Regions from separate parts of the Homo sapiens genome. Here region 1 is reported to be linked to region 2. Evidence: microRNA targets listed by miRTarBase, many of them from high-throughput screens and not tested one by one. Region 2 holds a microRNA gene; the other region holds the end of a gene's coding sequence.

The links. The annotated mature microRNA hsa-miR-223-5p reads CGUGUAUUUGACAAGCUGAGUU and lies in region 2 at 11,446-11,467, shown strand. An mRNA with a match to its seed (bases 2 to 7 or 8) in the 3' UTR can be bound and repressed. Matches are read on the target gene's strand: a 7mer-m8 pairs with bases 2 to 8, a 7mer-A1 pairs with bases 2 to 7 and ends in A, and an 8mer does both.
Region 1: the mRNA of PARD6G is a reported target of hsa-miR-223-5p. Seed matches in the 3' UTR shown: 7mer-m8 at 8,565-8,571.

Annotation. Positions count from the first base shown.
Region 1 is chr18:80,150,423-80,165,700 of GRCh38, forward strand. PARD6G (par-6 family cell polarity regulator gamma) reads right to left here. Exons shown (of 3, transcript NM_032510.4): 3 at 6,810-10,184. The coding sequence ends at 9,349. The region is part of intron 1 of PARD6G-AS1 (PARD6G antisense RNA 1); the gene reads left to right. Among named protein-coding and RNA genes, the nearest start is that of PARD6G-AS1, 10 kb to the left of the region's middle. RefSeq lists a silencer at 9,328-9,397.
Region 2 is chrX:66,007,450-66,022,993 of GRCh38, forward strand. MIR223 (microRNA 223) reads left to right here and starts at 11,421; the gene lies at 11,421-11,530. VSIG4 (V-set and immunoglobulin domain containing 4) reads right to left here. Exons shown (of 8, transcript NM_007268.3): 7 at 15,392-15,413; 8 at 14,289-15,051. The coding sequence ends at 14,814. MIR223HG (MIR223 host gene) reads left to right here and starts at 8,012. Exons shown (of 3, transcript NR_170299.1): 1 at 8,012-8,102; 2 at 9,616-9,740; 3 at 11,375-12,977. RefSeq lists an enhancer at 5,801-5,870.

The DNA of each region.
Region 1 (15,278 bases), not on the chromosome of region 2:
TCTATATGTCCATCAGATCCTGCCCAATGCTGGGGACAAAACATGAATGAAATGGAGTTACCCCTCAAAGAGCTCCCAGCTCTAAAGCCATGATCCTGTGCTCCATCAATACACAGGAGCAAGGGGGAAGGCAGATGTTCCAGGAGGAGCAGAGAAGGCTTCACAGAGGGAGGCAGCACAGCCGACCTCAAGTGTGAAGGGAAGCTGCAGGGGAAGTGCAGAGCAGTCCCTTTCAGGCCAAGCAACAGCACAAAATACCTTTGAGACATAGACATATGAGAGGCACAGCTCATTTGAGGAGCATTGAAGAGTTTAGGGGCACAGAATTAGACTTCAGGGTTAAGTTCAGGACCTGGGATCAGAGTCTGGTAAGTTTAAAGGTTCTTGAAATAATTCTAGTAAATAAATAAATGTGGTAAGACAGTGCAGCAGTACAGGTGCAGAAGCTTCAGAAGCCGTCCTTTCTCCTCTCCTCATCCTCTTCCTTCCCTCTCAGCCCTAAACTGAGGCAGAGCGAAGAGGGCTCCAACTGGCAGAGGAAGAACTGGTGGGGCTTGGAGTTGGCTGTGGAGCCAAGCAGGGTGGTGAGGAAGGGTCCCCTGGGGAAGGTGAGAATGGCCCCTGTCAGTGTGAGTGGGGCTGGGAGGCTGAGAGGTAGCTGTGAAGGGGCATCGGGCCTGGAGATGGGGGAGGGCACCTGTGTGGGGAAGAGGGTGGTGGTGGTGACGGGAGGTTGGTGGTTACATTCAGGGGACTGATCAGCACATGAGTATATTAAGGATAATGGGAGCAGGTTTCTTACAAACAAGGAAAGGAAGAATCAATAGAGATGTAAATGCGTGTGTGCACATGTATGTTTGTATGTGAGAGAGAGAGAAAGATCATCTCCAAGACCACCCTCAGGTTTAGTGAGTTTCAGAAAGAACTCACAGGCCTCAGAAGTCATTCTGCTCATGGCTACAGTCTTCCTAAGGGGACACTGTAAGGGGAAAAGGCACAAGGCAAAGGCTGCAGGAAGCCTGTGTGAGTTGTGAGCACCCTCTCCTAGGGCAGTCAGGAGGGATGTTCCTGACTCCTCCAGCAGTGAGCTGTGATGATGTGTGAGGTGCTGTCCACCAGGATGCTTGCCTGAGCCTGACTCCTGCGTGTGGTTTGGGGGATTGGTCCCATAGGCACACAGGAGGCTACAGAACCCCGGAAGAAAATCGGGGGTTCGTTGTAAGTCACATCATTTGTACGAATTGTCCAGAAATTGTCTGGACAAAAGGGTGCAGGTGATGCATGTTTCTAAGTGTGCAAAACACTCATGCTACAGTGTCCAACTTTTTTGGCTTCTCTGGGCCACAGTGGAAGAAGAATTGTCTTGGGCCACACATAAAATACACTAACACTAATAATAGCTGATGAGCTAAAAAAAAAAAAAAAAAAAAGTCCATGCATAATTTTCATGATAACCTTATTAAAAAGTGGGCAAAGGACATGAATAGACATTTTTCCAAAGAAGACATACATATGGCCAACAGGTATATGTGAAAATGCTCAACATCACTAATCATCAGAGAAATGCAAATTAAACCACAAGATATCTCATCCTACCCTAGTTAGAATGGCTGTTATTTAAAAAGTCCCAAAACAGATGTCGGCAAGGATGCAGAGAAAAGGGAACTCTTATACACTGTGGGAATGTAAATTAGTACAACCTGTATGGAAAACTGTGGAGATTTCTCAAAGAACTAAAAATAGAACTACCATTTGATCAGCAATCTTCCTACTGTGTATCTACCTAAAGGAAAAGAAATCAATATATCAAAAAGATACATGCACTCTTATGTTTATCGCAGTACTATTCACAATAGCAATGATAGAGAAATTAGCCTGAGTGTCCATCAGGGGATGACTGGATAAAGAAAATGTGGGATAAATATATACACAGTGGAATACTATCCAGTCCTAAGAAAGAATAAAAATGTCTTTAGTGACAACATGCATAGATTGGAGGTCGGTATCTTAAACAGGTCAGATCCCAAAAGACAAAGATCATGTGTTCTCACTCATGAGTGGTAGCTAAAAAATGTGTGCACATGGATGTAGAGAGTGGAATGACAGACATTGGAGACTTGGAAGGGTGAGAGGGTAGGAGGTGGGTGGGTGATGAGAACTTAAGGAGTACAATGTATATTATTTGGGTGATGATACCCTAAAAGCCCTCACTTGACCAGCACACGTTGTGTGCATATATCCAATTATGCACGGACCTTTTTTTTTTTTTTTTTTTTAAGATCATCAGCTATCGTTAGTGTATGCATGCTGAATAGGGTATCCAAAACTAGTACCCCACGGATTTATACAAATAAAAAAATGGTTACTAGTAAGGATGACTGTAAGATTTCTGCTTAGATTACTATTGTAGTAGCATTCACCTAAGACATTCTTTGTCCAAAATACTTTCAAATACAAAAATCATGATTCCAAGAAAGTGAAGAAACAGGATGCTCAGAGAAAGGATTGCCCGTTTCTCACTGATTGTCTTTCTATGGGTCAGTGGTGCTGAGCAGGGAATATTCCCTTCCATATTTTCAACAGTAACTTGAGTGACCCTTTACATATAAGCAGACTTTTAATTCCAAATTTTTGTTTGTTTTTTTGAGACGGAGTGTCGCTCTGTTGCCCAGGCTGGAGTGCAGTGGTGCGATCTCAGCTCACTGCAAGCTCCACCTCCCAGGTTCATGCCATTCTCCTGCCTCAGCCTCCCGAGTAGCTGGGACTACAGGCGCACACCACCATGCCCAGCTAATTTTTTTTGTATTTTTAGTAGAGACGGGGTTTCACTGTGTTAGCCAGGATGGTCTCCATCTCCAGACCTTGTGATCCGCCCGCCTCGGCCTCCCAAAGTGCTGGGATTACAGGCATGTGCCACCACGCCCGGCTAGTTTTGTATTTTTAGTAGAGACGGGGTTTCTCCATGTTGGTCAGGCTGGTCTCGAACTCTCAACCTCAGGTGATCCAGCTGCCTCAGCCTCCCAAAGTGCTGGGATTACAGGCATAAGCCACTGCGCCTGGCCTAATTCCAATGTTTGACCGAGGAATGAAGTCACTTACACTGGATGGCAGAGTCTGCCTATTGCTGGCTAGAATAGACAGTGAAGATGCATTCCCGAATAAACCAAAGGTGGTAGATGGTGTCTTTCCTTAGCCAGACTGTGTGGATAAACATTGCATTTTTATTTATTTATTTTTTTGAGACAGGGTCTCACTCTGTCACCCAGGCTGGAGTGCAGTGGTGCAGTCATAACTCACTGCAGCCTTGACCTCCTAGGATCAAGCGATCTTCCCACCTCAGCCACCTGAGTAGCTGGGACTACTTTTTTTATTTTAGGCAAAGAGAATGTACTTGGCTAATTATAAAAACATTTTTTTGTAGAGACAAGATCTGTGTTGCCCAGGCTGGTCTTGAACCCCTGAGCTCAAGAGATCCACCTTGGCCTCCCAAAGTGATAAGATTACAGGCATGAACCACTGCACCCAGCCTGCATTTCTACAAACTGATAGATGGGGTGAGAAAAACAGTTAAGCCAGAACATACAGGTGCAAATTATGGCTCTGAAAAGTATTTGTGTGATATTAGAAATATTAGTGTGCCTTCATTTTCTCATCTGAAAAGTAATGGTAAATGGTAAAAATTTACAATATCCTCCTTCTGGCTCTGTTTTTCTTGTCATTTATTGATAAATGAATTATGTGTTATCTTTTGTTTGTTGCCTGTTTCTGAAGCATAAACTCCAAGGAAACATTGGTTTACTCATCCACACTAAGTAGGATCGTTAGTAATCGTTAGTAACTGAACATCAGAGAGAATATGACAGCCTCTGAATAAAGAGCTTATGCTGGCATGGGAAACAAATGCAAAACCGTCGTGGCAAGCAGAGGGCATGAAGTCGGGGTTTCAGTGTTTCGCCTGTTGCCTGTTACCACCCATTACACAGAAGTAGATTTGGGACTCAGGTACTCTTATTAGTTGGTGTGGTGCCCTCTGTGGCCTGGTTCTGGATCTGCAGCCCAGTTACTGAAAGTAGATTTGGGGCTCAGATCCTGTCATCCATGTATGTGGTGCCTTCTGCGGTCTGGTTCTGTGCAGTTCTCTTTTTATGACTGGTAATCTCTGTGGCCCAGTTCTGTGGAGGTGGTTTTCCATCTCTGATTCTCTCATCAGTGTGTGCTGGTCTTTGGAGTCTAATTAATTCGAAGTTGATTTTGGATATTATCCTCATTCGTGTGTGGTGCTCCCTGTGGTCTGGCTTTGTGGAAGTCAATTTTGGATTCTGATCCTGTCATACATCTGGCATTCTGCAGTCCCATCACATGGCACTGTGCCCTTCTTATGCTGCAGTCTTATTATGAGAAAGGAGGTTCCATACTCTGATCCTCTCATCTATACGTTTAGGTCTCTGCAGTCTGGCCTCAGATGGGTTTCATATAGGGTGTGTAATTTGGCTCTGAAGTGGTAAGACAGACTTTTCTGTCATCACGGCCATGTTGCTTAATAGCTCACCTGACAGTCTACTGGAAGTACAATTCTTGTAAAAGAGCTCTTGCCTGGCACTTTGTCTTGAGAGCAAGGGGACTCAAGTCAAGAAATAATGTGTTTATCTTCAAAGCTCCCTGGGAAAGCAAATTTGGAAAATGGCACTCATTTTCTGGGTTGCAAGATCAATGATGAATCATGTTTGCTTTTTATTACTGTTATAGAGTTATGTCTCTCCTTGGGAACATGGCTCAGTATTGAAAACATTCTCAATACCCTCAAGTTGTTTTTTTTTTCCCCATGAGGATAAAGGAGAATAAAACACAAGATAAATGAGGAAAGGTAAGAGGGAAAAAAGAATTTGTATATTGATTTGGAGTGTCTTCAGGAATAAATAGGAGATGTTCAAAGCATAAAGGAGAACGTTAAGAAGACTAGGTGTATAGATGTGGCGCCAGAATGGTGGTGGTGGGAGATAATTCAAAAAATAGTATTTGTGCACTTAGGAAATACTTTTGCAGGTTACCTGATGTGAAATTACAATATTGATACCAGCACATAACATCCTAGAGGGAAATCCTATGTGCTTGTTGGATAGGGTCTCGGTCATCAAGTCCAAGTTTATAGGCAAGTCCTATAAGCTTGGGGGATTAGCCAATGGTTCTCAAATGTGATTCCTGCACCAGCAGCATCAGCATCTACTGGGAACTTGTTAGAAATGAAAATTCTCAAACTCCACCCAAGTTCCTTAAATCAGAGCCTCTGGGGTAATCCAGGCACTCTTTTATTTGTTTTGTTTTTTTGAGATGGAGTTTGCTCTGCTGCCCAGGCTGGAGTGCAGTGGTGTGATCTTGGCTAACTGCAACTTCAGCCTCCCGGGTTCAAGCGATTCACCTGCCCCAGCCTCCAGAGTAGCTGGGATTACAGGTGCACGCCACCATGCCCAGCTATTTTTTTGTATTTTTAGTAGAGCTGGCGTTTCGCCATCTTGGCCAGGCTGGTCTCGAACTCCTGACTTCAGGCAATCTGCCCGCCTTGGCCTCCCAAAGTGCTGGGAATACAGGTATGCACCACTGTGCCTGACCAGCAGGTGCTCTTTAAACAAGCTGTTCGAGGGGACGAGGGTTCACCCTCCGGTTTGTTTGAAACAGGAGGTCCTTGAGCTCACGCTGAGCAGCTTACCTTTCCAGAAATGGGCAAGCTGGAAATCAGCTAAGTAGGTTCATACTTTCAGTAGGAATGGTACACATTAAGTATCTTAGTGCATTTGGGAACTGGCCATTAGTGCAGCCTTACACCATTTTAATAAACTATTCAGACCGTGTGAGTTTTAGTGCTGCCATAAAAAACTTCATACTAGTGCCAACTTTTAAAATGCAAGGATCAAAAGTTGACCCTACCACACTTAGTTCATACTTGCATCCTTTAAAAACATTCCACAGAGGTGCAGGTAACTTACATGTCCTTCTGTTGGAAAATTTAGATTTTCGCTAATATAGATTTCACAACAATCATGGCATTTTTTAGATACTTTTGCACCTTGCCACAAAACTCTCACTCGCTGTGATCATTTTATGTGAAACCATAAAATATTAAATACCCTCACCAAATTGTGAATAAATTTGCCATATGATGTGGACTATCAGGTCAGGGAAACCCAAGCCTGAGGCCACACCCGGCTGGCAGCCAGGGGCACATGTGGCCTCTGCTTACACTTAAGCCTCGTATCTCATCCTGCTGAAAGCGGACATTAGTTTTGGAGAGTGTACCCAGTGTTGGCACTTGACTCCTGCCTCATCAGACTGTGGGGGTCAACTGTCCAGCTGCCGACAGTCCAGAGTTGCTGTGGGGACTCAGCAGGTGGCGAGTACTTGTGAAGCTCCTAGTAGGGTACCTGTGCTGCTTCCAGGATGCTGGTGCTCAATGTGATCACATCTGTAATTTGCTGAGTAACTGAATTTGTAATTGTAATTTGACTCTTGATGGCTGCCAGAACGACAGTGTTAATGAAAACCGTGCCAACCAGGGCACATTTAGGAAGGACTGTGTGCTGTATAAATATTCAGAAAAGCTTTTTCAAAAAGACTTCGAGAGAGGGTTCTGGACTGTCATCTGTCTATCTGATGAGCTTGGGCCCATTTTCTCATCTGCGTCCCTCAGAGAGTATGTGCGGATTCCGTGAAAGATGGTACATGATAAGCACTTGATAAATCTGTCATTCTCTTTGAGGGATTACTTTATCTCTGGTATTCTCTTCCACTTAGAACACAGGTGAAATATTCATGCATTTTGTTTACTCAAAAGTCAAAAAAGTTTTTATTCTCTGATATATAAAACCAAGAAAACTTTAATACATAATATGCATAGTTTTGTTTTTTTAAAAGGAGAAAGTGGCAGAAGTACAGACCTGTGTAGAAAAATACACCCAAGCAGCTGTTCTAAGCAGTAATTCCTAAAATTATGAATAGCACACAAATCTCAGTGAAAGCCTCATTTCTTAAAAAAAAACTCACATTTGCTTAACAACTTAAAATGTGATAAGAAATATAACCTTCCTTCTTGATAGCCGACCCAGTTATATAACAGACATTCAAGAATCAGCAATAACTTAGTAAAAGAACATTTCCTTTGTGAGGGTAACATTATTAGTTTTAGTTCCACAAAAACTGCTTCTGACTGCTGGGGCACTGAACGACATGCCCTTCATCAGAGAGCAAGTCCGGGGGGTGCGGATCCTCACCGGAGAGGTCATGGGGAAGCATCTTTGGTCTTCTCTTGCTTAGGAACAAAGGGCCAGCAATCCATTGCATACAAATAACATCAAACACAGGTGCAGGAATTCACAACTCCTCAGCAAAAGCTATTTCTTAAAAATAGAACTTGCTTTTCACTTAATATTCAGAAAAAATGAAAATGCTGAGATGCAGTTTTCCCTCTTAGCAGTTCCATGTTCACGAAGTCAGGACAGTTCTGCCACTGACCAGCAGGTGGTGCTGGACCACAAGGAGAAGCAGCGGGAGGTACGCAGCTCCGACAACCTAGAAAAATATTTCTTTACCTGTATCTGTATGAAAGATTTGGTCAGAGTTCTCAAAGTATAAATGTAACATTTTATTCAAGCAAAACACATTATATAAAATTTAATTGTATCAAATAGGAATTTTTAAAATTACTAAATATATAAACGTTGCTGGAAGATCAACATAAAGTGAGGATGAATTTAGTATTTGTTAAAAATCACTAAGTTCCACGTGACTTCTTATAGTTAAAAGTGAGAACTGCCAGTGACCATTCTAGAAATGAAAATTAGCATGTATTGTGACTTACTAAAAGAAACGTCTGTTTCAGAAAACAAAGATGAGAACTCACGTGCAAATGACTGCATTCTCAAAGACATTGCTGGACATGTGCGATGCTTATCCTTCATTTCTGCTGAAAACATTTCCGAAATCGCCCTCAGAGTCAGTCAACCCACAGGAAAAGGGTCATCTTAGAGGCAATAGAGGCTTACATCCCAAATGGGACTGCTGAGCCCAGTCCAGCAGAGCTGCTGCTTCCTACCCTGGATTTCCCCTTGAGGCTGAATGGGCCACCTATGTGGGTCACAAAAATAGCCCCTGGTCTGGTGCTGTGGCTCACGTCTATAATCCTAGCATTTTTGGAGGCTGAGGGGGGACCGTATCACCTGAGGTCAGGAGTTCAAGACCAGCCTGACCAACGTGGTGAAATCCCATCTCTACTAAAAATACAAAAATTAGCTGGGTATGGTGGCATGTGCCTGTCCCAGCTCCTTGGGAGGCTGAGGCAGGAGAATTGCTTGAACCCAGGAGGCGGAGGTTGCAGTGAGCTGAGATCCCTCCAGCTTGGATGACAGAACAAGACACTATGTCTCAAAACAAACAAAAAAAAGCCCCGGAACAATTCCACAGCTGCGGGTGCCATAAGTGTGCTGGTGGGAGCTCTCCTGTCCCAACCGAATTATGACTATGAACAGTGTGAAAATCTGGAATTCATCTCCATGGTTGTACATGGACAGGTTTGGGTGTATTTTTTTTTTTTCCCGAGACAGAGTCTTGCTCTGTCACCCAGGCTGGAGTGCAGTGGTGCGATCTCAGCTCACTGCAACCTCTGCCTCCCGGGTTCAAGCGATTCTCCTGCCTCAGCCTCCCAAGGTAGCTGGGATTACAGGCGCCTGCCACCACACCTGGCTAATTTTTATATTTTTAGTAGAGACAGGGTTTCACCATGTTGGCCATGCTGGTCTCGACCTCCTGACCTCGTGATCAGCCCACGTAGGCCTCCCAAAGTGCTGGGATTACAGACGTGAGCCACTGCACCTGGCTGCATTCGTTATTAAAAACCAGCCTCTTGTCACGTACATCAGCACAGTCGGCCTCGCCTGCAAGTCAGCAGAGAGCACAGCAAGAATGCTGAGATATGTTGCATGGGCCAACTTACTTAAAAACATGAATTTGACTATTTTAAAAAAGTAATTTTAAAGCTTCACTTTAAAAACAAAGTATTTGTAAAAATTTTAAAAAGCATTTTTTTGCACTTGGTCAGATCTTTTCTATCACTTTGCAAAGGCGCCAAGACCTGCACTCAGGCCTGGTATAGAGTGTCTCTACAGGCGTTCATTTTAAGTTCTGTGGCGAAATTCTATAAAAATAGGCAATACTTGTGTTTTTATATCCGGAAGTTGAAACAAAGAGCAGCGTTGTTTTTGTGGTCACAAAAACAACAAAAAATGAGCGGATGCAGTCTGCAGGTCCTGTCCCTGTCCTTACCGGGGAACTGGAGCTAGGATTTGGGGGCCTCTCGGGAGTCTAGAGCGTGACCGCGGGCCCGTGCTCCTCCACGCCGCCTGGCGGCAGCGCCAGGCTGTGACGGGGGTCGGCCCGCAGGGAGCTGAGCAGCCGCTGGAGGCCGCCGTCCAGGGCCAGGTCCCGCTGCAGCCGCTGCGCCAGGCCCGCGCCATTGACCCGGGAGAGGCTGCCTGCGGGCGCGCCCGGGGTCTGGGGGGGACGTGCAGGCTCCAGTGTGCCCTCGATGACGACGTCGTTGTCCTCATCGCTCTCCGCCTCGTCGGGGTGGAAGTTCTGCAGGACGCGCGGGGCGGGGGGACCCACGAAGCCCGCGGTGCCGTCCGAGGGCGGTCCCGAGCTGCCCAACGCGCGGCCGCCGCGCACCACGTTGTTGCGCTGGTTGGCGGGCTTGACGGTGACGATGAGGTTGTGGCTGTTGGCGATCATCATGTCCGTGACCTGGTCCAGCGTCTTCCCGGCCACCTCAATGCCGTTCACCTCCAGGACCTCGTCATTCACAGCCAGCAGCCCGGTGCTCTCCGCCAGGCCCCCGGGTACCATGCGCGAGATGAAGATGCCGGGCACCTTCTCCAGCCCGTGCGGGGTCACGCGCACGCTGGCGCCATCGCGGATGTAGAAGCCCAGCGGCTTCTCGCAGCCGTGCCGGTGCAGCCGCACTCGCCGGTGCGTCTCGGGGACCAGGTCCACATCGATGATGGATGATACGGGGCGGAAGTCGCGCGGGAGGCCGATGTCCAGGTGTGCACGCCGCCGGGGTCCTTCATCACGCAGCGCGCCCAGCGCCCGCCTCCGCCTGCACAGCGAGCCCGCGCCGAGGCTGCCACGCTCGGCCTCCTCTGCGGGAGAGGGGACAGTTAGAGGGGACACACAACCGAGCCCCGCCTGAGCCCTCGGCCGTCATACACCTGGCACTGCTGTTCCATCTGCGTGACGCCGAAGCACCCAGGGTGCACAGGAGCATTCCAGACCTGCAGGCTGAGCTGAAATCAGGCAAGCTCAAGTGCAGCCCCTAAAATTAACTCTCTAGCACTCTCCTTACAGCTCCACAGGCACCAAACCAAAGAACTCAGAGATTAAAAGGTGCTAGCAGGCAGCTGCAGCAGAGAGAATCAATGGCAGTGGAGGGTTTAGGGCTTGGAGGGCTGGCGAGTGCCTCAGCCTTCTGGGAGGCAGCAGGCTGGACTGGGGACTTCTTAAGCTTTGCCCATTCTCCCATATTTCCTTCTCTCAACTGTAAGACGGAGGCTCGTTTTTTTCTAAGGTTAATTACAACTAAGAGAGACCTTTCCTGCTTTCTTCTTTTCTATGCGCAAGCCCCACCACAGTGTCTTCTAGCCAGCATTCAAGGCCCCTGAATGTGTCACTCAGTCGGGCGTGTGAGCATTTCCCTGCGTTTTTGGTTAGCAGCTGATGAGGGGAGATGAGTAGAGGAAGGAGTGGGATCAGAGGATGGCTGCTTCCCTTCTGTGAGGTCCCGCACAGTCAGTGCTATTTGTAGGCACATGGAGCCTCAAGGCTCACCAATATGCCCAGCCTCCCATGGGGGCTGTGCAGCTCTCTTCCTCAGGTCTCCCAGGGACCCTGTGGGATCCGCCTGCCCACACCTGCCAGCCTGTGGCATGACACATTTGTGGCAGTGTGTAAACTTTACCCTAAAGTTGGGCTACTGCAAAATAAAATGAAAGTCCACTGAATTAATCAAGCAGAAACGTAAGGAGCTTAGTCTAAAGTAAAAATTTTAAGTGAAGAGACTGGTGGCATTTGGAAACTCTGAATAATGCATTTTCCTCATGTCAGAAAAAAAATCTTGTTTCATTAATTTTTATATGAAACCTCTTGTTCTTGACACACACGACTCTGTAAGACAGGCGTCTCGGGGAGCAGAGGGAAGGGCTTGCTCTGTGAGGCTTGGTCCTGTGGAGTTGGTGGCATCCACAGCAGCCTGCTCTTTGGGCTGGGGAGGCTCACATCTTTGCTTTGCCAGTGAAAGCCAGTAGGACCGGGAGCCCAGGCAGAAGCAATGCCATAAACAGGCGCTCCTCAGAGCAGAGACCTCCAGGCTCCAGGGGTCAGTCTGGCTTCTGCATTTCAGTGAGCAGGCAGGGCCCATTATGACTTGCTTTGGAGATGGGGAATGCTGGTTGACAGTTCTGGAAAGGACTCGAAGACAAATTACTTCCACCATGGAGGCAACATTCAGGCAGCTTGGAGAGGAGGCCAATGCTCAGGCATCACATCTCTCAACCCAGCAGAGCCCATGGCTGCCTAGACAACGAGAAGGCCCTAGCACAGGCTCTGGCACATGCTCCAGGCAGCAGGGTTAATGCACCCTGGAGCCGGGATGCCCCAGCATGAGGACTGTCTTCCTGGGAGCTGGCATCCTGGCCAGCACTCAACACATGCTGCTCAGTGACGGAACCCATCCGTCATCAGTTATCAGCATAATTTATTACCCACTGACACAGTAAGGTCTGGAAGGACTTTTGAAATAAGATGACTTTTAAAAACTATACCTGTAAACCCTGTTTACCCTGACGTGATTATTATGCATTGTATGCCTGTATCAAAATCTCATGTAACCCATAAATATATATACCTAATATGTACCCACAAAAATAAAAAAATAAAATGACACTTGTAATACTTCTTCCCAGCTGTGACCACCGGGGCTGGGTGTGCATGTCTGTCAAGTCCTTTCTTGCACACTCACACGTACATGTGGCTATGGTTGTGCTTGTTTTATAGAAATGGGATCTTGGTTCCTGGCCAGCACCCGGCCTCTCTGCACCTCATAGACACTGCAAATCCTTACTCAGTGACTTCAGGGATACAGGTGAGTGGATAAAGTCCCTGCCCTGAAGTAGCCATGAAGCGAGTGGGAGAGATACAGACTGAATTTTACATACAGCTACATGGAGAACACCGTGAGACTGGATGTGCACAGGATATGATAGGAACAGTGCGGGGGCATCTGGGGAGGTGGCAGTTATGCTGCCCGGGGTGTGGGGATCAACAACACAAAGTTCAAGAGAAGACGCCGGAGGGTGAGTGGCACAGAGCTCCTCTTCCCGTGATGAGGAGAGACTACCTGTAGAGTCCATCTGGTCTGGCTGCTGCCGCAGGTTTGGACTAACCAAGGGCCTGGGACAGAGTGGGCTCTCCCTGGACTAAAAGCTAAACCTCACTGAAGGCATCTGCCTCATGATTGCTCATTCTAAGTGGGAGGGACTGTGGATCCATGGGGCCGCAGATGGAAGTGTGGCAGTGTCCGAGGCACAGTGCTCTGCCTGCTTTCCATGATACGGGCTCTTCCCAAGGGGTCTCCTTGGATGACAAATCTATGCACTTTCAAGAAGGCAACCCCTCTGGCAAACTCATGCCTGCAAGAACATTGTGGTGCAGGTGGCCATCCACATGCTCCTCCTTGAGGACAGGCCCTATGCTCAGGCCCTGTGCTCAGAGCCACGAGCAGCAGGGCCCAGGAGAAGAGACTAAGGTTTTATGCAGGGCAGGTGAGGCCTGAGATGCTGAGGGTAGGGGAGTAAGAAATGGTGTGTGTCCATGTGTGAAACAGCCTGGCCGCCTGTCCCACACACGGGCAGAGTACAGTGAGGCTTGGCCCGGGAGAGGTGACACCTACTGTTCCAAGCATCCTCTTTCTCTCTACCACTGACTCACAGAGTTTGAGGTTCAATTTCACCTCCCTCTGAGAGCCGCTTGTCTTCAAGTCCCAGTTCACAGCCACCCATCCCGGGAGCCCCACCCCTGTTCCGCATGGTGCATTCCCTTCCACCAAAACCACAAACCTGTCTGCGTCACAAGGGCCAGGTGGAAGCATCTCGGCCATCCCCACAGGGCAGCAAGTGCTCTGGCCGTGGTGCACGGTGGACTGGATTGAGGCTCAAGCCCAGAACTGTAGGATACAGAGAAGGGCACAGCGGGCCGGGCCCCTCCTCGTAAGGGGCTTATAAATCACTTAGGTAGACCAGGGTTCCCTGCACCAATAAAAGCAAGTGTGTGGACCTCTGCTTCCCAGAAGTCATGTAGTTCTTCCCATCCCTCCTAAGTTCAACAAAAACCCTGGATGTTACATACAAAACAACAAATATAAGATGACGCAGGAGAGAAGTCGCACTAGCTGGGGCCTCAGGACCGGAGAAGCAACATGGCAGCAGCTCCTTGGGTTTTCTTTTAGCCTTGTCATCCCAGACTTGGAGCTGAAGGCACCAGCAACCTGGATGCACCAACAGGCATAGACCAAAAAGCCCCATCAAAAGTCTGCTCTGTCTGTACAAAGATCAGAAAGAGGCAGCCTAAAAGGACGGAACACGTGTGGACAATAACTACCCCACCTGCTGCACCCCACACACAGAGCCTGGACCCTCACCTCCTCAAGGCTAGAATGGGTGCCCAACAGCCCCTGGCTCTGGTGCCAGAGAGACTAAGCAGGGAGTGAGGACCTGGCCTTTGTATTTTGTCCATGGGCCCCACAGTCTTGAGTGGGCCTCTCCTCCCTCAAAACACTTAGGGGCCATCCTAACAGCCCCTCCTCCTGGCCAAGTCCCAACTACTGCAAATCCCTCCCCTGCACTCCAAACCCTCCAACCTGTGAGGGGCGTTGCCTCTGTGATGTGCTCTCCATGTGTCTAAAAGGCTCCAGCTTTTAACTTTCATGGTTGGGTGTTTCCACCGGGTCCACACTGCTCTTCACGTCACAACTGAATGTCATGCCCATAGTAAGAGGATGAAACTGGGGGGTCCTGGGCCTTCAAGGACTTGAGCAGAGGGGAGCCTTGTTTACCCACCTAACAATAATGTAAAATATAATCCTAGCCAACCTCAAATTAAACCTTTTGAAGATATGTAATGGGGGAACCTGCCCCCAATATTTCAACGTAGGTTCTATTTTCCATAAATGTCAGCCAGCTGAGCAAGAGAAAGAGTACAAAGAGAGGAATTTTACAGCTGGGCCACCAGGGATGACATCACCTATCGGTAGGTCCGTGATGCCCACCTGAGCCTCAAACCAGCAGGTTTTTTATTAAGGGTGTCAAAACGGGAGGGGGTGTAAAACAGGGAGTGGGTACAAAGATCACATGCTTCAAAAGGCAAAAAGCAGACGTACTAATAACGGTCTAACAAAGATCACATGCTTCTGAGGGAACAGGACAAAAGGAAAAAGCGGAACCACTGATAAGCATCCAACAAACACAAGGCAAAGGGCAAAAGCAGAACCACTGATAAGGGTCTATGTTCAGCAGTGCACATATTGTCTTGATAAACATCTTCAACAACAGAAAACAGGGTTCGAGAGCAGAGAACCGGTCTGACCACAAATTTACCAGGGCAGAGTTTCTCCCCACCCTAGTAAGCCTGAAGGTTCTGCAGGAGACCAGGGCGTATCTCAGTCCTTATCTCAATCACATAAGACAGACATTCCCAGAGTGGCCATTTATAGACCTCCCCTAGGAATGCATTCCTTTCCCAGGGTATTAATATTAATATTCCTTGCTAAGAAAAGAATTTAGTGATCTCTCTCCTACTTCCATGTCCATTTATAGGCTCTCTGCAAGAAGAAAAATATGGCTCTTTTTGCCTGACCCTGCAGACAGACCTTATGGTTGTCTTCCCTTGTTCCCTAAAAATCACTGTTATTCTGTTCTTTTTCAAGGTGCACTGATTTCATATTGTTCAAACACATGTTTTACAATTTGTACAGTTAACAAAATTATCACAGTGGTCCTGAGGTGACGTATATCCTCAGCTTACGAAGATAACAGGATTAAGAGATTAAAGACAGGCATAAGAAATTATAAAAGTATTATTTGGGAACTGATAAATGTCCATGAAATCTTCACAATTTATGTTCCTCTGCTGTGGCTCCAGCCAGTCCCTCCATTCAGGGTCCCTGACTTCCCGCAATGGATATG
Region 2 (15,544 bases):
GATCTCTCTTACCATGTGATGTGCCTGCACCCCTTTGTCTTCCACCATGGGAAGCTTCCTGAGGCCTCCCCAGAAGCAGATGCTGCTATGCTTCCTGTACAGCCTGCAGAACTATGTGCCAATTAAACTTTTTAAAAATATATAAATTGCCCAGTCTCAGGTATTTCTTTACAGCAATATGAGAATGAACTGATACAGGGAGACCAATACCCAGAGCAAAAAGAAAACTTCCCAAGGTCATGTTATAAGCCATGACACAGCTGGGCCTGGAACTCAGGTCTCCTGACACTCTGCCTAGAGCTATTTTCAATGAACCTTCAAACCTGATGGCTTCCAGGAACCAGGTCATCAGGAACCAGAGTCCAAGGAAGGTCAAAGCTTTCAGTATTCAGATATTACCTCATTTTCTGGTCTTGCAGAACAGGAAGATTTTTTTTTCATGAACAAATATTTGCTGAGAACCTACTATTATAAACAAGACAGCTCTAGCACTAGGGATATAGTTAAGAATAAAATAAAATAACTACCCTCATGGAGCTTACACTCTAGTAGGGGACATAAACAATAAACAAAACTATAACATGGTAGAAGCAAAGTCAAAAGGCAAATGACAAACTAGTGGAAATAATTACAATTCTCATTACATACAAAGGAAAAATTTCTCTAACATACAAAGTACACCCAAAATCAATTAAGAAAAAGAAATCAGCAGTCTAATTGAAAACTGGGTATGACAGACATGGTTCCTGCTCTCATGGAGTTTGCAATTGAGTGGAATAAACCCCTTTTTTCTTTAAGGCTACGGGAAACAGCTAGGCAGCAGGGTTTGAGGGGGCCAAAGGATATGGTGAGTCATTGAGTAGCCTCTCTTATGCCATCTTAGCAATAAACTTCTTAATTTTAGAATTTGGAATTCTAAATTCTGACAAAATTATAAATCTCAGCTTTGCCACTTACTAAATATGTGACGTTGAAGGAAGTTGCTTAATTTCTTCATGCTTCAATGCCTACATTTGCGAAATAGAAATGATTCCTATTTTATAAGGTTATTGAGAGTAATAAGTGATATAATAGAGAGTGAGAGTAGGTGGTACATAATAAGTACTCAACAAAAGTGTTTTTCTTCCAATTCCCACTTCCTATTTTATAAGGTTATTGAGAGTAATAAGTGATGTAATAGAGAGTGAGAGTAGGTGGTACATAATAAGTACTCAACAAAAGTGTTTTTCTTCCAATTCCCACTTCCTATTCTGCCTAGAACCGATAATAGAAGGCAGTGTCCCTTCTGATGCCAATATGAAGCTTTTCTGCTTCTTACCTTGCATTATCTGGCCTTTACAGGAGCTCTCAGGATTCCACTTTGTAACCCCATGAGGTATCAATTTTTTAGGGATTGACTGATTCCTGAATCAGTGCCAAATCTAGTTCTAGCAAATGTTTAGCTGTGGTGAAAGCTCAAGGGTCTGTTCTAAATTTTCTTTTTGTTTCCCAAAAGGCACAATTCTTGCCCTTCCTTTACTCAGAAGACAAACTAAGAAGATGAAAATAGTCTGTGTGTGCCAAGTCAATGATATCACGGGCAACTACCCCAGTCTGAATTAGGAAATATCTCTATACTGATATATAGATACATACAGATATATAGATATATTCATTTAATTTTTTATTGTAAATTTATAATTGTATTTGTGGGATACAAAGTGATGTTATGATTTATGAATACAATGTGGAGTAATTAAATTTAATATATCCATTGTCTCAAATACTTATAATTTGTTGAATAATTTGAAATGTACTCTCTTAGCAATTCTGAAACATGCAATATACTATTATTAACTGTATTCACCATGCTGTGCAATAGATCTCAAAAAAACCCTATTCCTTCTGTCTGAAACTTTGTACCCTTTGAAAATTATCTCCCCATTCCACCCACCCCCAAGCCTCTGTAACCGTCATTCTACTCTCCGCTTCTATAACTTTCATTATCTTAGAATCCACCTGTAAGTGAGATTATGTGGCATTTGTCTTCCTGTGCCTGGCTTATTTCACTTCACGTAATCTCCAATTCCATTTATGTTGTTGAAAATGACAGAATTTCCTCTTATTTATTTATTTTTTGAGACAAGGTTTTCCTCTGTTGCCTAGGCTGGAGTGCAGTGGCTATTCACAGGTGACCATAGTGCACTACAGCCTTGAACTCCTGGGCTCAAGTGATCCTCCTGCTTCAGCCTCCCCAGTAGCTGGGACTACAGGTGTGATGTGAATAGTGGGAGTGAGAGACAGACTAGAGTGAGAATATATATTTTAAATAAATACATGTTTGTTCCTTCCAAATATACTATTTACAATAGGCTATTGAAAGTTGATTCCTCATTCATTTCTTCATTGTCCATTTAAAATTTTTCCCAAGGGAGTGTATATTTAGGGCAACTCGAATCTATGCTCCTGAGTTGCAGCTCTCAAGCTTGGCCCAGATAAACTCTTTACTCATTTTAAGAAAAAAACAAACAAACAAAACAAAAACAGCTACTGCTTAGTAAAAACCTTTAGGTGGGCCATTATAGGAAATAGATTAAAATGGTTGATTAGGGTCACTTCAGTTATTTCTGCCATAGATGGAAGGTTCTGAAGGACTCTAAGTGGGAGTGAGGTATGGGTAGTAAGTAGAACCAGTTTGGTTTTCTGTCTTTAAACAACTCCCTGGAACTCCTATTTTATTTACTTCATTTATTTTGTCTTTCTAAGAAGCTAAACAAAAGCTTCAGCTCAGACTTATCTAACAATCATAAATTGGAAATTAATGAGGTTTTCTTGGAAAAAACTGCCCTTAAAGACTGAGATGATAACTGACTTGAATTTGACATTTTCCAGCCAGAGACATATTGTATATTTTTTTGTAGATTGCTCCAAAATTTCTACCTTTCATAAATTGTTGCATGATATTTATATCCTACATCTGCCATTTAATAGGTAATTATAGTATCTCCCTCATAAGGTTGTTGTTAGGATTACATAAACTAACATATGTAAAGGGCTTCAAACAGTGCCTGGCACTTAGTAAGCTCACAATACTTGTTAATTATTGTTATTCCAGTACAAAATGGATCTCCTGATAGGTCGAACCTCTTTGCCAGGTTTCCTCCAGAGCACATTTGGTGTGTTGGATAGGCCTTTGGGCTACTATTATTCTACGATATCTATAGATACTTAAAAATGCTCTCAGGCTTATATTTGCCATTTTGTATCGGTAGTCTCCCTATTCACACAAGCTCACCATATTCTTTCCTATCTCTGCACCTTTACTTGGGTTCTTTCCTCTGCCTGAAATGCCTTTCTCTGATTATTGATCCTGTTATCCTTCAAGGCTCTTTTAAAATTCGGCCTCTTCTGTGAAGTCTCTAATCCAACCAGTTGAAATTAACTTTTTTTTCCTGTTTGTTGCCATAGTCTGGACCCCTAAAATCCTAGGCTTGAATATAGAAGGGCACTGCATCACATATATACACTTTCTGGCTTCTCATGTCTCAAACGCCCAACATAGCATACAAGTCCTTTCTTAGTTTGGCCCCCGGCTTAACTCTTCTATTTGCTTTGTGCTATTTTTTCCTTTGCTCACTCTTTTTCAAGCCATACCAGCCTTTTATCTTCTTGGAATATGCCACATTATTCTCCATCTCAGAACCTTTATACATGTTGCTTCTTCTGCTTGGAATTGCCTTGCACCCATTATCCACTTGGCTCACTACTTTTCATTTTTCCGTCTCACTTTAAAAGTTACTTCCTTAGAGAAGTTTTCTTGACCTATCCAAGTCTGGTGGATTATGTTATCCTGTTACGTGTTCTCCCTGCTCTCTGATCTTCCCCCTTTCTTGACATATTTAAAAAATTTGTTTAATGGCTATTTTCCACCACACGGTATATGTCAAGAAGGCAAGCGTTTTATATGTCTTTTTCACTTCTGCATCTTGAGTACCTTGCACCATGCCTGACACTTAGAACACATTCAACTTGTATTTGTTTTGTGAATAAATTTAATCAGACTTATTGTAGAGATGGAAATTTGGAGGCCCAGAAAGGGAGAGGGATTTGCTCAAGGTCACACAGAGAATTAGTGGCAGAGAAAAGACTGTAGCCCAGATCTCCTGACCCTCAGTACAGTTCTCTTTTCCATACATGCACCTCCACTATTGTACTCATTTTTTGAACATGCTTATGTAGCACTCTGTTTTCTGGACTAGATTGTGAATTCCTAGAGGGTAGGGACCATGTCTTATACCTGTTCTGGTCAATACAGTAGCCACTAGCCACAGATGGCAATTTAACACTAGAAATATGGCAAGTTCAAATTGAGATGTACTGTTTGCATAAAATACATACTACATTTTGAATAATGTAAAATATCTTATTAACAAATACTTACATTGTTTACAGGTTGAAATAACATTGTGGATGTATTGAGCTAAACAAAATATATTATTAAAATTAGTTTCACTTAAAAATTTTTCATGTGGTTATTATAATAATTGTGGCTCGCATTACATTTGTATTAGATTGTTGTATATTTCTGTTCTGTTGTATGTTTATTTTTTCCCCTTTTGCCAAGCATAGAGCTTTGTAGCCAGTAGGTGCTCAACACACCCTTGCTGAATATACTTAAGCTGTAGTTATTGGGTTAATTGCTGCCATTTATCTTGTCAGTGTCACTGTTTTGTGGCAGCCTCACAGTGAAACCTCTGTCCCTAGGCCCAGGTGTACAAAAAGTTCTTTAGTCCTGGCCTGCGGGTGCCCTACACATTGCATCAGCCTTTGTATTTCCTTTCAGAGGAAACCCCAATGCAATCCTATGCATAGCAATCACTAGGGTTGAGGTAGAGTGTGTGGACACAAGCCACTTGCACAGGAAGTGGCCTTAGCTTTGCAATTTTCCCTGGGGCCTCTTCTTGAAAGTCTTCTGAAAGGAGGTGGGGGTGAGTGAACAGGAAGATAAACTCAAAGTGAAGGGTGGGGGCTTCTCAGCTCCTTCATGGAGGTTGGGTAAGCTAAGCAATGTGGGGACATTGGGCTATGAGGTCTCTTTCTTTTGCTTATGCATTGACTCATTCACTTATTCACCTCACAGTTCTGGGATAACTAGTTTATTCCTAGGCCTAAGAAGACAGTAAAGATCAAACATAGTTCCTACTTTGGGCAGTGCTTGGTCTTCTGGGAGAGACTGACACCTAAGTGCTGTGTGGATGTTTTTCAAGAGTAGAGGAGGGCAAGGTGGGAAGCAACTAATTTTGCAGGTGGTTGTCAGAGAAGGCTTTCCAGAGACAGTGAGCATCATTTTTTTCCTCTCTATCCCTTAAGATGTAGCCAAAATCTTATTCTTCTGAGAACCTTTCCAGTTACCATCACCTTCTCATCTTCTGCCCTGGGAGAATCTTATATACGTATCTGACGGCACTTCATGACTTTGTCAAATTACTTATCATATTCTGTAGGGTGACATAGCTCTTGGGGTGCACACCTGTCTTCCATTTCCCTTTAGCCTGAGAATCCTTCAATCTGATGTGAGGACTAAGGCTCAGACAGGCTGTGTGTGATTGTTCAAGGTCACATAATCAATAAGTTACAGAGCTTGGTCTATAACCCAGGGTCTAAGATGCAGGGACTCTGATTCAGTGTTCTTTCCATTCCAGTACTGCGGAAACAAATGAGTGTGTCTGCAGTGTGGGACCCCAGCACTGCCTGCTTGCTCCGCTTGTCAACTATTTTCCCTTCTTTCTCATCTCCCTTCACAAGCACAGGCAAGGCAGAAATCATACAAAATGGGAAAACTTTGTGACTTTTGGTTGCTCTCTGCAGAAGCCTGGACAACAGATCAAAAAGAAGAAGCCCCTTTGTGCTGTTATTGGAAACTTGGCCCTTCCCAGCATACTTTGTGTTTGTGGGCTAAAGAGGAACTCTGAGCACAGTTCCCTTTTCTCGCATTCAGGCCATATGCATAGGTAGTATGATTTTCAGAGCCTTCTGTTTCCTAATGCTCTCTTTTATTGCCCTGTCTTTGGACTCAAAATAGATACCATTAATTACTACTTTAGGTAAACACATTGTCTCCAGAAACCCCTGTTAAAAGGCCAGTAGAGTACCCTAATTGATAGGGAAGAAAAAAACGTGTGTAGCTAAACTTAATCTCTATGGTATGCGTAGGAAGAAGGGGGTCCCATTTTAGCAAAGTGCCCGCAGGACTACCCTACTTCCGCTCCAAGCTTTAGTCAGAAACCAAAAGAAACAAGAACTGAATCTTTCTAGAAGCTAGATCTGGGGTCTTGAGGCCTGAGCCAATAAATTATTCTGGTAGAAGGAAGTTTTCTACAGAGTGATGTTAGTGCAAGTGAATCCCTATTTCAGGCTTTCACAGAGCCTCAGGTCCTGCAACCATGGGGAAGCCCACAGTGAGTAACGAAGAGCCACAAAGGAACCAGGGAATGTTTGAGTTGGAGTGGTCTCCAAGACCATTTAGTCCAACCTCTGTTGATTAAAGGAGAAACTAATGCCCAGGGAGGTAGTAGAGTGGGGACTAGGGCCCAGGGCTCTTGGCTCGCAGAATGTGGTCTTTCTTTTGAGCCTGAGTATATAAGAATGTACATAGCTTGAAAAGATTATTTACCACGGCTTGACTATCACTCAGGGCCATACTTCCACTAGTGTAGACAGAGGACTGTGACTTGGGCACTGCAGTCATTGAAAGCTATCAAAGTATAACCTGAAAGCATTGCCCCTCCCATCCTTCATGCCATCAGAATTCATGGTGGAGGGCACTGCATGATGGGAATTCATCATCTTCCTGGCTGTTAGTGGGGACTTCCAGGAGACTGCAAACATGAGGCATTAAGAAACCATCCACCTTCTTTTCACACCTTTCATGTCCCTCATTAGCCTGAAGGTCACAGTTGAACTTAGGGGTCTGGCACTAATTTTTCTTTCTCAAAGTCAACTACTTTCTTCTCCCTTCCTTGTAGCCAATGTGGGAAAGTAGACGAAAACCTCAACATTTGGAGTTAGACCTGAGTGAAAAATCTGCCTTCTCTATTATTTTCTAGTTTTGTTTCCTTAGACAGGTCACTTTATTTCTGTGTGCCTCAGTTTCCTCACCTATAAATAAGAATAATAATACCATACCAGAGAGTTGTTGAATAAATTAGATAATACACATGAAAGAATATCATAAGTACTCCAATAAATGTGAATTTCCTTATTTATTTCCTTCAGCAAGCCCCAAGATGACAGAATGTGGCTTGTGGTCATAACTGTGCCCCAGAGCCAGCTTCATAGGCATATGACTTGTACAGCTTCACAGGGCTCCATGCTTAGAAGGACCCCACACTTAGTTTAATGTTCTGCTGTCATCATCTTGATATTCTTAATTTTTAAATAAAGGGCCTATCGTTTTCATTTTTTACTGGGCCTTGCAAATTATGTAGCTGGTTCTGTATGCCAGGAGAGAAGTTGGAAGTAAAATGGTATTCCAGGACCAGGAGGCATTCTGGCAGAGTGAAAGAACATGTGATTTGGAGTCCATGGGGATGGGTTTAAATTTCAGCTTTCCACTAATTTGCTTTGTGATACTGAGTATTTCCTTTTATCCCTCAGAGGCTCTGTTTCTCAATTTTGACTACGGGTTTTTTCATTAGATAATGTCTCAGTTCTGGTATTCCAGGTTTCCCTCAATTATTCTGGGAAAACCTCCTTGACCCACAGGCAGAGCCTAGGGCAGCCAGGTGCTTTCTACTCTCTCTCTCTCTGCAGCTTGGAAAGTTAGTGTCTGTTGAAGGTCAGCTGGGAGTTGGTGGAGGCAGGGCAGTGGCCTGCTACTATTGCTGCAGTAGCAGACCCTTTCACAACAGCATTGTTTTGTCATTTTGCATCCAGATTTCCGTTGGCTAACCTCAGTCTTATCTTCCTCATTTCTGTTTCCTGTTGAAGACACCAAGGGCCCTTCAAAACACAGAAGCTTCTTGCTCACGGCAGAAAGCCCAATTCCATCTGGCCCCTGCAGGTTGGCTCAGCACTGGGGAATCAGAGTCCCCTCCATGACCAAGGCACCACTCCACTGACAGGTATGGTATCCATTTGCCCTCTCTTCTTGGATTCTCAAGCTGGGGCAGAGTCCATGGCAGCCAAGGGTGGCTTGGATCTGCCCATCCCATTCTCTTCAGACCCTCCTCAGGGATTAAGGTCAAAGGTGGGAGGAAGAAGGCTTCCATTGGCCTTTTATCCTAGAGGTTCTAATGGAGGGGAAAAGGGGATAGGATATTTTCTATCCAATCAGGATGTTTAGGAGATAGTCACATGGAAGTGGAATGGCCTTTGGACCCAGGAGTCAGGAAACCTGAGTAGCAGTCCTGGTTTTACCATTTACCCAATGTGTATCTTTGGGTAAGTCCTTTCTCCAATCTAGGACACAGTTTTTTCACCCCTTTTGCAAAATAAAAAAGTAAAAAGAGGAAAAGAATGATTAGATAGATGCTGTCTAGAGACCCATGGTTATTAGATTCCTAATTTTCATGATTGTCAGCCCTCTGTCAAGAAAGAAGATGAGAGTAATCTTTGCATATGTAACTGTGGGTGGGGCTGAACACATTCAAGAGGAGAGTGCTGGTGGTAATCCATATAGCACTCTCTGAGAGGCATGACTCAAAGATGAAAGCCTCTTTTCTAGTCCAATCTTTGACTCCTAGAGATTCAAAATTGAAAGACTCTTAGAGACTAGGTACATATGGAAGAAACTGAGGTCCAGAAAGAGGAAGAAAGGGACTTGCCCAAAGTCATACAGAGAATCTGTAGCACAGCTGGGTCTGGGCTCCCAGGTCAGTCCTCTTTTTGCTCTATCCTAGGAGGACTGAGACATCAAGCAGCAGGACCTGTCCTGTAACTGACCCAGGACAGGTCCTGCTCATACTAGAGGCAGTCTGGGATTTTTAGGCATGGTCCTGAGGACTTCTTCTTTTCTTCTATTTTTCTTTCAGGTACTTGGCTCACTCTGAGTGTTCAGAGATTCCTAGACACCTACTTACCCCTAATTCTTCTGGTCTATTCCCTCCAATTCCCTCCATAAAAACTGACCCATCCTTTGCATCAACAATAGTGGCTTGATGACGCTCTTCAGTAGAGGATTTTGCATTTCATATGGGGAAAAATGATGTTATTCTAAGTAATATAACAGACCAAGAGAAGAGCTTTCAAATTCCCTTAATATCATCCCATATAGATATTTATGTCTTCTTTCTATGGGTCTGGTGAACATTTCTCAACTGAATGTGATTTTCTTACATACACTCCATTGGAGAGGCATACCAGTCTAGTTTCAGCTCAACCACTAACTCCTTCCATTAATACTGAAGCAATGTTGTCTATAAGGCTCCACAAATTTCAAAGTACTAATAATTTTTAGCCCCTTTCATGCCTCCTTTCCAGCCTTTCTGGAGGTGAATAAAGTCAGAAAGTGCATTCAAAAGGCTGTGAACACCTCCAGCTTATCTAGGTCTTCTTACTGGAGCTGACAGCCAATGAGTGTAATGATACAAAAAAGGTAACAATCCATTTCTTTTTCTCCTGCCATCCCCAACTCAGACTCTGTTAATCAGCTTGCTTGGCTGGCCTCCAACCATAGGTCCAGGGGCTGAGACAAGGTCCTTTTGAGCTCCTATGTGGGAGGCTCTGGAAAGCTTAGCAACACTTTCCAACAACTTTGCCAGGTAAGTAGGTAAGTCTCCTTGTTCTCATTTCCAGAGAAGACAACTGAAACCCAAAGAAAGACTTGCCCAAGCCATGATTGGCTAGTTGATGGCCAAGACAGCATTAGAACACAAGTTTGTCGATTCTGTCATGCCATATTTGGTGACCATGACTGCTGCTTTTGCTGCTGGGTGGATTAGGCTGAATTGGGTAGGTAGAAAAGGAAGTGAGGGAGTGAAAGAGCTTTAGTTTTGAGATGACTGCCAGAACTTAAATTGAAGGAGTATGTTACCTTCTTAACATTCAATTAAAAGAATAGAGCAAGAAAAGACACTGATTGTTTTCTTGCTGAAAGACAAGGCTGAATCCCTCTGTCTTACCTGGGCTGGGACAGGGCTTTCCGGCCTCATGGGGGCAGTTTACCATTTCTGGTAACCTTGTGATGTTTGCCACTTTTCATGACAATATTTAATGTAGACCAGCTACCTGCTCACAGATCAACTGCCACAGCTGGTAAGGGCAGTAATTTGACACCAGCAACCTGGGATTTTTAGCAACAGGATCTGATTGTTGCCAAGGGAATTCTCCCAGAAGTTTCAGACCTGACCCTGCTCCTGGCAGCTTCCTTATTGCCCTGGTGGCTTGTGGGTTCAGTGATCCCAAATGTTGCATTACAAAGCTATTGCCTGTTTTTGCCCTCTTTGTTGATGTGTCTTCCCTTTCCCAGAGGGATATACAGAGAAGGGAGGCAAAATAACCAATGAGGAAAGCTGTATAAGGCATACTGCTGAACTGTAAAAAATTTATTGTATAAACTTTACAAGTCTCCTCCCCAACAGGAGCCTTTGTTATCTCATTTATAACCTAAGTGAGTGAGACTAGATGATCTTTAAGGGCACTTTAATAGCTGCCATTCTTGAGTCCCTATGGGACAAGAGGATCATGTTAGGCAAGGCTGAGACCACAAGAAATCAATGTCACACCTGTCCAGATCCTGCTAAATCAATTGCCAATAGCTCTTTCTTTCATTTTGGTCACACAACCACTACTTTTTGAGCATTTGTTATGTATTGAATACTGAACCAAAGGCTTTACATGCATTATCTCCTGTCATTCTCACAATAACCTTATGAGGTAGGTATTATACTTACATACATTTTGTGGGTGTAGAAAACTTGAGCTCAGAGAGGTGAAATGATGTATCCAAGGTTGCCTAACTAGCTAATGGAAGAACTAGGATTTAAGCTCATGTTTAACCTCAAAGCCTATGTGCATAACCACAACACTGAAAACACAGCTTGGGAGAATTGAGAAGAGGGAGCAAGGATGCTGACTCTAGGGTCTGGTACTTTCCTCAAGTCAGGGAGGCAGGATGATGACCAAATTTTCCCCTCTCTGCTGCATAGAGGAACCCACTGAAGCTTGGGACCCCTAGAAATGCCATAGCTACAGGACTCAGGCCTGATGAGCTTCCAGCTGAGCACTGGGTGTCACTCGGGCTTTACCTGCTTATCTTCAGGATCTCTCTTCTGGTTAGGAACCCTATGCCTATTTTGCTCACTTCCCTATTCTGGTGCTTTGGTTGGTCCTTTGAGCAAGATCCCCGGGGCTAAGGGTGTGACTTCATCATTCCTTTCTCTCTCTTTCCCTCTAGGGTCACATCTCCCAGGAAGATCTCACTTCCCCACAGAAGCTCTTGGCCTGGCCTCCTGCAGTGCCACGCTCCGTGTATTTGACAAGCTGAGTTGGACACTCCATGTGGTAGAGTGTCAGTTTGTCAAATACCCCAAGTGCGGCACATGCTTACCAGCTCTAGGCCAGGGCAGATGGGATATGACGAATGGACTGCCAGCTGGATACAAGGATGCTCACCAAGCACCAAGTTCTCACAAGTTATTTTATGTGACTTTGCAGGAACTGAGGCATTATATCTGAGGACACCAGGGGAAAAGTGTGGCATCTCAGGGAAATACAGCCCTGGGCTGTGTCTACACACACCATGAGAGTGCTGATGGGGGCGCAATAGTCTTGAAAATGTATAAAGTGTCCAGGAATGGAAGTGCTCTTTGATTCATTATTATTTTCTTCCTTCATATTCCCCTCCCAGAGTCTCCTATCTAGGACATCAGCATTCTCACACAAGCCTAATGGCTTATCTGAGTAAGCAGGGCTTAGAAATTCACTTTCTTGATACTCAGTCTTGCCTTCTAAACACTCCTTGATCTTGCCTACCTCTCCCCTTTTCCACATGTCTTTTCCTGTAGGAACACTTTCTCCATTTATTCCTGCCTATCCAATTCTTCCCTATATTTCCTGGACCAGCTAAAGTCCAGTGTTTCCAGAGACTTTTGAAAGTCAACTTACACTTTTTCCTTCTTCATTCACAAAGCTCTTCTTCCCTGGGCCCTGGTATGTATGCCTTTCTCTCCTACTGTCTAATAGCACCTCGTAAATTGTCAATGAACTTTTCTAAGGGGTATTCTTGAATTCCCAACTAGATTGTGAGCTTCTGGAAGACAAGGCTATGTCTTTGATTGTTGTCTCCCCTACCACAGCCCAGTACTTTAGTTACAGAAAATAATAAATATTTACTGATTGATTGACTTTCCTCTTGTCCACTAGCTTTAGGTTTGGGGGCCAAATTCTACCCTGGATTTTGAAAAATTCAAACTGTGAACACCACAATGTTATAGAGCATATGAGGTAGTAGCCAGCATGAAGGATGTTTTCTTCCTGAGAAACAGTGTCAAGGGCTGGAGGAAGAGGGCAAAATAGCAGACTCAGAGGGCAAATAAATTTTGGTATTACTTGGTCACACAAGGTTATACAGGTGTTTTCTTGTAGGATTTTTCAGAGCCTTTAATAGTCTAATGTTGCATTGAGAATCTCAAAGAGGAAACCATAGAATGAGGCATTTGCCATACCTATCTGATCATGAATTTTCTTTTCCCCCACAGCCTTCTCCTGTGTCAATGTCCAATGAAGCACGATTTGGGAAACTGTCCTAGAGAAACTTTATACCTTCCCGCTCTTCTGGAGATCTTTTCCTCTTTTCATTCATCTACTTTCCCCAACCAGCCATCTGCCTAAGAAAGGTCACATGTTATCATCTCATTTTTGTTTAGCCTCTGCAGCTGTGGACTATCTTTATTACATAGGAATTCTTTACTAGCTTGTCCTGTATTTAAAAATATTCTAAGTTTTGAGGCAAAGAAGATCCAGATGCTGCAATAAATATATGCACTGAGGAGTTCACAGGCCTGACTTTTGGTCTCCTTTCTACCACTAACTGTGTTTTTGTTCCTCTCTGAGCTTCATTTTCTCATCTCCAATACGGAAGTATTAGAATCAGTGATCTCTAGGCTCTTTAAGATTAATGACTTTGAGATATCCCTGGGAGTCCTTAGCTCTTATGGAGCAGCGTCCCTGGATGTGTGGCTCCTTTTACCAGTGAAAATGCAACCAGGATTCTCTTCCCAACACCTAAAACTCACTTTTTCTATGGGTAGTAGGGAAAGATAATGGGTATTTTCAAAGGCTGTAGGGTCTGGACGCAGAGTTGTTTCATGAAGGAAGTTGGGGTTTCCACTGGGTGGAGGCCCTATTTCAGAGGCTTGTAAGCACGATGGGGAAGAAAGAGTTGTTCCTTTCGCCAACTAGGAGAAGCTAGCGTCTGGAATGAGGAAAATGTTGAGGTTTTTACCCTGGATTTGGCATGTTGGGTGGCGGTGAAGTGGAGGACTCCTTTTTGTTACTTTCGTGTACTATTTTGACTTCTGTAATCATTGCAAAAGGGGAGCAGCTCCTTGTGAAACATGAGCTGACCTAGGGGCTGCATGGGAACCAGAAATAGCAACATGGCAGCTTCCTTGAAGAGTGCAGAAGTTGATTTGACATTAATTACATCGAGAAAATAAAACTGTGTCAACCTGGGTCAGAACAGGTCCTCACAGCGGAGCCTGATTTAAAGGTGTAGGAACTTATGTACACATACAAACTCTCTCTCTCTCTCTCTGTCGTGCGCACACACACACACACACACACACACACACTCCTAGCCCTATTCCTCCTTGAAGAGAAAGGCTTTCTTGCTCTTATCCCCACCTCACATTGTAAGAAGGGGCCAGGAGCTAAAGAAGATAACATATGAAAAATGCAACTACCCCCAGGATTTTAAGATTCAAAGAAGTGGAAATCCTTGGGAGTGGTGCATCCATACTTGGGAAAGAAGGAAATCCCTTCATCTCTGCATTCATAGTCCCCTGAGACAGAAAGACTTTTTCTTTCTTAGGCTTCCAGTTGATGTGGGAAGAATCATCCAGGTGGACCTGGCAGGATGACAGGTTGGGTAATGGAAGCCAGGGGAGTACTGTTTAATCAAGTATTCACTGTTCTCCAGCTGGGCTTACCAGTGGAGTGAAGTAGGAGTGGCATGTGTGGGAAGGGGAAAGACCAAAAAAGCAAAAGTGACATCCATATTCTCGGGCCCCAGCCATCTTAACTAGTCTCACTTTAATTACTTTTAGTAGGTCCTACCATACTGTGAGAGAAGACCAACACAACTGAAGTTGCTGTTATGATTAGATATTTATTGAGCACCAGGAGAGAGTCAGAACATTAGACTTATAGTGGAGGAGCAGAACTGAACCCTGGCCTGTGAAATAACAATTTCAATTAAAAGCTGTCTGGCCCTGAAGAAAGAGAAATGATCCTGGATATAGCTGGTCCTCTGAGCTGGCAGAGCTGAGCCTCCCTCGGGTCTTCTGGTGGCAAGATGCCAAAGTTGAATAGTGTCTGTAGGCATGATGACCAAGTCCTAGTGCTATGGGCATCTTCCCTCTGGTATTTAGAGAGGAGTACCAGAAGCCCCCGGCAGAGATACTAGAAGGGCCCAGAGCCAAATCCAGCAGCTGGCTTACTTGAGATGCATCTGGCAAATTCCAGGGCAAAGCCAGTGACTCCCAGCGGCTCCAGTGTTGGTAGGCGGACACTTTGGGCTATCCAGGAAGAGAGGTAGCAGGGAAGAAGGCCATGCAGAAGGCAAGGACTGACTAGGCAATTATGTCAGCAGATCCTGGCCTAATGGGGCATTTTTAACAGACACTTTTGCCCTCAGTGGCCAGAAACTCATAATCCAGAGGAACTGTGTCCAGCAGGCGGGCGTAGTTGCCATTGATCTGGGCGATGATCTGGTACTCCTGTCCTATGCAGGGCTCATCAGAGTAGTTGTTGCCCAGATTCTGGGAAGTTGGCTCATCACTGGAGCAGCCACTTGCGAAGATGGCCACCCTCATGGTTTCTCCAGAGTCGTTGGCCTCTCTGGCATGTGCCCTATGGCCCAAGAGCCCACCACCCATAAGAAGGGACTTGGGGCTGTGGTCCTGGTTTCCCACCCTTCTGCCTCAATTCTTGCCAATTAATTATCAGGATCCTACCACCCAGGGATTCTGGAAGCAGAAGGCAGATGGATCTAAATTATCCTTTGTGTTCAGAGGGCCAAAACAACCTCAGAAGGTGCCTGAGAGAGGGAAGGCAGCTATGTCCTGACCCTGAAGGCCTCCGGCCTTAGGATTGGGTCTGTGCCACACCCCCCTTCCTCCACATTTCCTGCCAGTAATCAAAATTGAGGGCAGGGACGGGGTCAAAAATGGAAGAGGAGAGACTTTCTTACCTGGCTGCTTCGTAGACATGCTCTAGAAAAAAAGGAGGAATCATGTCAGAAGTTTTCATGGCAAGTGGACAAAGGTCAATCATGGATCCTGGGTACCAGTCAAAAGATGAGGGAAGGGTACAGAGGAGGGGATTTTAATATGTCTTAGCTTTC